Homo sapiens: one gene and its partner. The protein of the gene in region 1 interacts with the protein of each later gene in a pairwise test. Each region holds a gene or a part of one and is shown on either strand. Other genes may lie near its edges.

Region 1 (3,818 bases):
ACCCTCATGACAACCCTCTGAGTAGAGACTATTAACATTGCCATTTCGGAAACTGATGCTCAGAGAAGTCAAGTGACTTGCCCAAGGGCACATTGTGACAGAGAAACAAGGGTAGAACTTGAATGCGTGATTCCACAGTTTATGCTTTTAATTGGTAAGCAACTTATTATTTTTTTATTTTGTTTAGAGATAGGGCCTGGCACTGTCGCCCAGGCTGGAGTACACTAGCGTGATCATAGCTCATTGCAGCTCAAACTCCCGGGGCTCAAGCAATCCTACCACCTCAGCCTCCTGAGTAGCTGAGACTACAGTGCATGCCACCATGCCTGGCTAGTTTTTTTTTTATTTTTTGTAGAGATGTGGTCTTGCTATGTTGCCCAGGTTGGTCATGAACTCCTGGACTCAAGCGCTTCTCCCACCTTGGCCTCCCAAAGTGCTGGGATTACAGGCAAGAGCCGCCACACTTAGCCAGATAAACAAATCTTTTAAAATGAAAGATGACCTTCAAGGTCAATTCAAGTCAGGACCAATAGGAAAAAGAGGAGATGGTTAAACAGGGTAGGGGAGAAATGGGGACAACACAAGCCACAAGGGATGGGGCTGGGCTGTGGGAAGGTCATGACTGAGGCAGGACAGCAACATGTCGTGTGGACCCCATGGTGTTCCCTGGGGATTGTACCTCGCAGCCAGGCAGAGCATGGGGTGCAGGAGCAGGGCATGGGGAGGCACAGGCAGCTGGGGAGTGCGTGCCCCTCCCCCTCCCCACATCTAAGGAAAGCGGCCACCAAGAGGGGCAAGCCCATTGTTGCCAGTTCTCCTGATTTTTACAAGAGAAGCCAGAAAGCTGGATTTTTCTGTAAAACCTCTCCATTTAAAAATGCTGGCAGTGAATTCAGATGTGTTCAAACCTTTTTTGGGCCACAAGCCGTGCCTGTGCTCCTGATTCGACCCAGGGGTCTCCAGGTGGGAGTCTACCCTGGGCGCTTCCATTTGCCCAGCGTTTTCCAAATGACAAAGGTGCTCGTAAGGGACTCTGATGGGCCCAGCGCTGTGAGGGGCTGGGGGGATCACTCTCTCAGTCTCGTGAGAGACCAGCGCCTTCACTTATGGTGCAAAGAGACAATGAGCAAATAGTTTATATGTAAGGCCCAAGAAGGGTGTGGTGGCCCACCGTTGACTCTCTGAAGACCAGGATTTTTTATCCTGGCTACCCGTGGAAATCACTTGGGTGGATCTTTAAAAATGTCTGGGCCCCACCCCTAGAGATTCTGCTTCAGTGAACAGCCAAAGTTAAGAGCCACTCTCTATGGTTTGAATTCTTCCACTTCCCCTTCCTTCCTTCCTTCCTTCCCTCCCTCCCTCCCTCCTTCCTTCTTTTCCTCCTTCCCTCCTTCCTTTCCTCCTTCCTTCCTTCCTTCCTCTCTCCCTTCCTTCTCTTCTTCCCTTCCTCCTCCTTTCCTTCCTTCCTTTCTTTCTTCCTCTAGCTCACCACATAAGCATTTATTGAGTCCTTCCCTGTTGGAGGAAATTTAAACACCTTAGCTGTTAGCATCAGGCTCCTCCCCAGCCAGTGAGAGCTGCTGACAAGGATGCAGACCCTGGAGGGTCAGGGTCCGCCCATATCACTGGTCCCATAGCTTCCACAAAGGCAGAAAAATCCAGGAAAACACACAAGGACTTACCTGGGCATAGGGTGGGCAGTGGTAAATGCAGAAACAGCCAGCCAGCTAGCTGTGTGGGTATCACTAAAACCACCCCCTTTTCCTCTGCTTCTCCAACCCATGTGCAGATCCCGGAGCTAGAGCTCCCATCCAGTTCCCCTGTCCCCCAAGTCACCACGCCAGAGCCAGGCATCTACCACGGAATCTGTGAGTAGCTCTCCTGGAGCAGTGTTGGGTGGAAGGAGGACCTTCCAGGGACAGGGGGAGTTGTGGCCACTTGGGACAGGGTTTCGCTGGACAATCGGGTGGGTTGGACACTGTACAGAGACACCAGGCCATGGGGCAAGTGGAGGCTGAAACCAGCCTGCGCTCAGCTCCCTGGCCCTAGCAGGGCCACCTCACTCCAGAGGAGGGGCATCTCTTAGCATTTTGCCTTCCCTGAGGGGCATTTTTGCATGCAGACACCCTATGTGTTAGCTGTGACCATGACCCTGACCCAGGAGGTGTAGTTGGCACCCAGAAAGTGTAGAACAAGAGGACATTAGAGCCTGAAGAGACCCAAGGCATCTGTTGGTGCAGTGCCCCGAGCTGTCTCTTCCAACTCCACCAAAGAGTAGATGCACAGGCAGAGAAAACCTGCATCCACTCTGCCCCGGGGGTGGGGGCAGGTGCACAGGCCCAGGGTACCAGGTCTTCTGACTTTTCAGAAGAAGTCGGAAATCTAGAGTCTTACGTGAAGTCTCCAGATTCTCAAATGTGTGTAACGAATTTTCTCATGTTTTAAAATATCACATGAGCCAAATAAAACACTTATTGTGTATCTGGCCAGCTGGCTGCCAGTTTGTGACTTCTGAGCAAATCCCAGGGGTTTTCTGCTGGGCCTGTTCCTCACCCTTCTTTTCCATTGATCCTTCCAGCCAGTTCCTCTCTTCATCCATGCGTGTCCACATCAGCCCCTCCCCGTCCTGGGGAATCTTCAAGCCCAAGGTCACTGCTGATTGTGATCTCCTCCCTCCTGCACCCTGCTAACCAGGTTCCTGGCAGCCTCACTTCCTGCTCTCTCCTGCCCCCTGTGAATGTGACCCGCTTCTACTTTATCTTCTGAGACAAAAGATGTGACACTGTCAGGATCCCCTCCCCACCTCCCCATCCTCATCTCCAAAATGAAGCTGGAGCCTCTCCGAATCCTGGTGTCAGCCCTTCCGGGACCTCCCCATGCCATCTCTGGAGTCCACCTGCAGGCACCTGTGCAAGCCACACCTTCCACCTAGGATGCCTCCCTGCTCCATCTCTGCCTTCTGACGACCACCTGTCGCTGGCTAGGTTCCCTAGACACAGACCCTGAGATGGAGTTTCCTGGGGTGTGCTCTTGTCAGGGAAGGGTAGGAGGCAGGATTGGGCAGAGGGAGAAGCTGGTCTGCGGTTCAGCCACTTCAAGGCCTCAGCCTGCTCCACAGGGAGCTCGGAACCTGGGATGGCCCTTTGGGGTCATCCTGAGTTGAGTGAGGGGCCATGTCTTTATCTGTATCAACATGGCACTGGCTATGGGCTGCCCCTGGGGAGGGGCATGGCTTTTTATTTTACTTTTTAATTTGTATTTATTTATTTTGACACAGTTTTACTCTGTCGCTCAGGCTGGAATGCAGTGGCATGATCTCAGCTCACTGCAACCTCCGCCTCCCAGGTTCAAGAGAGCTCCTGCCTCAGCCTCCCAAGTAGCTGGGATTACTGGTGCCCACCACCACGCCCGGCTAATTTTTGTAATTTTAATAGAGACAGGGTTTCACCATGTTGGTCAGGCTGGTCTCGAACTCCTGACCTCAGGTGATCCACACACCTTGGCCTCCCAAAGTGCTGAGATTACAGGCATGAGCCACTGTGCCCAGCCGGACATGGCTTTTTGCAAGGAGACTCTCTTCAGCCAAGGGCAGTCACAAGTCAAGAGCCTCAGTGGTGAGCTGCCAGCCGTCAGCACTTCCCGCCACCAGAGGACTAAGTCCTTCTGTTCCTGGGGGTGGGAGGTGGGGTCTGAGCAGTGCCCTAAGTGAGCTCCACATCCCCTCCCTTATGGCCCTTCTGCGACCGCATCTCCTCCCCAGGAGTCTTCTCTATCATCCCCTGTGAAAATTCATCTCTCCTTCACCTACTCCAAAATGA
Region 2 (4,241 bases), on another chromosome or scaffold:
AAAAATACTTATTTATCTAATATCATTTATCCAAGAATCTTAAAAATCACTTAATACTAATCAATTCAATAACTGAGAGGGGTAGGTACTAAGGAAACTGCAAAGGCCAAGAACAGAAATTAGGAGTATATGCTACTCAATAATCTTTGTCAGCTAAAAACTCTGCTGACTTATATAGCTCTGAGTATGTAAGATAAAGTATTATCTACATGCCTTCAAAAAACCTAAATTTAGGTATAAATGTTACCAAGATAATACCTGTTCTTACTATATGTCATTTGTACTTAATTTTTCTGAAGTCTGATTTATTGAAGTTTGATTTTTGAAGATACTGTTTAGTCAATGATCTGACCCAGAGAAAAATGTGAAAAATATCTGATGTAATATTACTTAATACTTTGAAACTAAACATTACACAGTATTTTAGATATCTTATTTTGAATCTATTATTTTAAATGTTAGATTAAAAGTCTACAGTATCACATATACCCATTGAGTAATCTTTCCATTTGAGGCGAAAGGTTTATGCTAAGCTATACATACCATCTTCCTGAATTTCTGAGATGGATACCTGACGGAAGGTGCAATCGACAGCTATAAAAACATTTTGTGTGTATGTAAAGTTAATGAACCTACAAAAGCATCAAACTCCTGTCCACGGCCTCTTTAGCACCATACTCCAACCAAGTTAACTGGTTCAAACTGCTACATAAGACAGTGATAACTACAGGAATAAGCACAAAGAAAGGTTATATTTTATCATGTTAAAAGTTTCACAGAGATAACAGGTTTACAATTCAAATTCCCATGTCCTGAAAACTGGCCTCTTAAATAACTCACCTCTCAAATCACAGACGTGCAATAATCTGAAATTATTATAATCTAAAGACTTAAGGAAATAACCAATTATTACAATTCATGTTCACTGTGAGGAATATCTAGCTATATAAAATATAGCTACACAAAACCAGAACTCAGTGAAACATAACTTTTAAGAGCAAGAAATCTGCTTGAGATTCGTATCAGTAGTCATTAAACGAATAAATGCTAAAGGTTTACATTCAAGTGCTTGAAGGACTACTGCAGAGAAATTCAATTACTAAAAACCTTTGCTCAGATGCCTGTCAGGCATATTAAGGATGGGATGATGTGTGAACCACCAGCAGTGGTATTAAACCCCAATCATTTTCAAGACAAGTAAGATTTAGAGCTGTTAAGACATTCCAGAATTTGGTTCACTGACACTAAAAGTGGTATTTTAAAAAAAGACCTCATACAGTCTGCTAGCATATCATACTAACCATTAGAGGAGGTAGTGACACAAAGTGTTGGAATTTAAAATACAAGATCAGCATTAACTGTAAACCATTCTAAATCACTGTATGTAACTCTTTAAAACATATGTAGTGAAAAAGAATTAGAATTCATATAAAATCAGAATTTAAAAAAGCAAAAAATAGAAATATTTAGTGAATTTACTCAAATGAAGGAAGTTTAAATGATACAGGAATGAAAAATATTAGAAATCTATGTACAATAAAAAGTAAATATAAATTAGCCAAGTCCATGGACATTTCCAGTTAAACATTCATACAAAAACATATTCACCTTTTTCCTTAGATAGGGATAACACATTCATACATGACATGATGATTCTGGCAAAAAATATCAGAGATACTAAAACTATTCTCAAGTTTTAAAAATGGTGCAGAGAGTGTTTCAAGAACACTCTACAAGAATGTAAACCCCTGATTTAATTCCATGATTTTATCATGCCAGAAGCATGGTTGGTTTTAGTTTTTTAAAACAGATATTGGTATCATAACACATTGGCTTATTAATAATTAAGGCATTTTACATACACAGTATCTCAGTGTGAACAAAAAATGTTTAATATTGATTTTTTTCATGTTTTAAACTTTCAGTCTTTTCAACATAAGAAAATAGCTGCACACATTTAAGTGTTTTTTTTTTTTAATAAAACACAATCTTAAAAAAGTTAATGATGATTGGTCTTGGTGGTTCCTAGTGGTAAGTCCTGTCTTATTTTTTCACATAGTATAAATTATATTTTTATGCAGGATTGCATTAAAATCCAGTAGTTCTTAATGTTACCAAATAACCATATAACTCCCAAATGCAGCAAAGGTGAACAATCTTCATAGTGCACTTTCACCTCAATGAAATTGAAGCTGCTCCTTTTGGATATTTTTCCACTTCAATGTGAAGCAGATTGCTGGGATTTCATTAGTGGTTTCATTACGTGGCTTTTTAAAAGAAAAAATAGTTTTGATTTCTTCCACAGTTCACAGTTCTCAGACGAGACTTTTTTTTTTTGTAAATTATACAGTTCAGGGATGTTTTGAAAAACCAAATGCTCTTTAGTAGATGAAATCTCTCAATGTAACTGTAATAAATAAGCATCTACATCCTTAGAAGATAAAACAAAAACATTTCATTAGACAGTACAGTAAATACAAACATAAACAATCCATTTTTTTTTGTTGTTGCTTAATTTGCCTTAGTTTCCTTTTGTGACCTTTTGAGGGTAAAAGACGTGCCTTGTTCAGTGCTTTTATCTGCATTTGTTCAGCACAGGGCCTGGCACATAGTATGTGCTCAATATATATTTGCTAAGTGCTAAATGAATGTGTTGGTTCCTATGCTCAAACAACTCTGCTTTCATAGCTAACATTCACAGAAATTCTATCAGTGCTGTTTACTATCAGTGCTATATTCACTTGAGCCCAGCTTGACAATAGCCTCTTTCAATTTCTTTCTCTTTTTTTTGAGACAGAGTCTTGCTCTGTCACCAGGCTGAAGTGCAGTGGCGTGATCTTGGCTCTCTGCAACCTCCACCTCCAGGGTTCAAGTGATTCTCCAGCCTCAGCCTCCCAAGTAGCTGGGACTACAGGTGTGCACCACCACGCCCGGCTAATTTTTTGTGTTTTAGTAGAGATGGGGTTTCACCATGTTGGCCGGGATGGTCTCGATCTCCTGAGCTCGTGATCTGCCCACCTTGGCCTCCCAAAGTACTGGGATTACAGGCATGAGCCACCTTGCCCGGCCCTCTTCTTTCAATTTCTATACTCAAAAAATTACAAATTAATTGATGGTTTAATTTTGTAAGAAAGTCTCATCATAAGGAACTTCGCATTGAACTTTTAATCACTCAATATTGTCCCCAATAATAAATGGTACCTTAAAGTCATATTCACAATAAAGCTTTTCCCTTTGTAAAAAACTGATTGTGGCCGGGTGTGGTGGCTCCCGCCTGTAATCCCATTACTTTGGGAGGGGGAGGTGGGTGGGTCACTTGAGGTCAGGAGTTCGAAACCAGCCTGGCCAACGTGGTGAAATCCCGTCTCCACTAAAAATACAAAAATTAGCCAGGCATGTGTGTAATCCCAGCTACTCGGGAGGCTGAGGCAGGAGAATCACTTGAACCCAGGAGGCAGAGGTTGCAGTGAGCTGAGCTTGTGCCACTGCACTCCAGCCTGGACGACAGAGCGAGATTCAGTCTCAAAACAAAAACAACAAAAAAAATTCTGATTGAAAGCAAATTTCAGTCATAAGGAACAATCATTTTTTAGTTCTTCTATACAGAATGCAACAACCCTTTAGAGCAAGGTAATACGTCATGTATGCTCTAAAAACCTAAAACAACAACAAAAACTTTCTAGGAGATTGATATGTTCATAAGATTTTCATCATTAAGAATTCTATAGGCCAGGCGCAGTGGCTCACGCCTGTAATCCCAGCACTTTGGGAGGCCAAGGCAGGTGGATCATGAGGTCAAGAGATCAAGACCATCCTGGCTAACATGGTGAAACCCTGTCTCTACTAAAAATACAAAAAAAAAAAAAAAAAAAAAAAAATTGCCAGGCATGGTGGTGGGCGCCTGTAGTCCCAGCTAATCGGGAGGCTGAGGCAGGAGAATGGCGTGAACCTGGGAGGTGGAGCTTGTAGTGAGCCGAGATTGCGCCACCACACTCCAGCCTGGGCGACAGAGCGAGATTCCATCTCAAAAAAAAAAAAAAAAAAAAAAGAATTCTATAGAGTAAAATCCCACACAGTGGTAACAAACTTGGTTGATATATCATTTTGCTTCTTTTTTTTGAAGGTATCTGAGAAATTTTTTTTTTTGGGAGAGGGGCCATGGTCTTCCATAGCAATGGCCAGAGCTCCTCTGTGGCTGTCACTTTGACAGGAGATAAGCTTCTGGTTGGTCACTGTTGGTA

Evidence for each region.
Region 2: the proteins of KATNIP (region 1) and KATNBL1 interact in a two-hybrid assay, tested with the Homo sapiens proteins (one large-scale study listed by IntAct).

What each region holds. Positions count from the first base shown.
Region 1 is NC_000016.10:27,752,384-27,756,201, forward strand, and holds part of KATNIP (katanin-interacting protein), read left to right. Parts: intron 1-1,789; coding exon 1,790-1,868; intron 1,869-3,818. UniProt on the Homo sapiens protein: May influence the stability of microtubules (MT), possibly through interaction with the MT-severing katanin complex.
Region 2 is NC_000015.10:34,139,941-34,144,181, forward strand, and holds the end of KATNBL1 (KATNB1-like protein 1), read right to left. Parts: intron 2,432-4,241; coding exon 2,399-2,431; 3' UTR 734-2,398; downstream 1-733.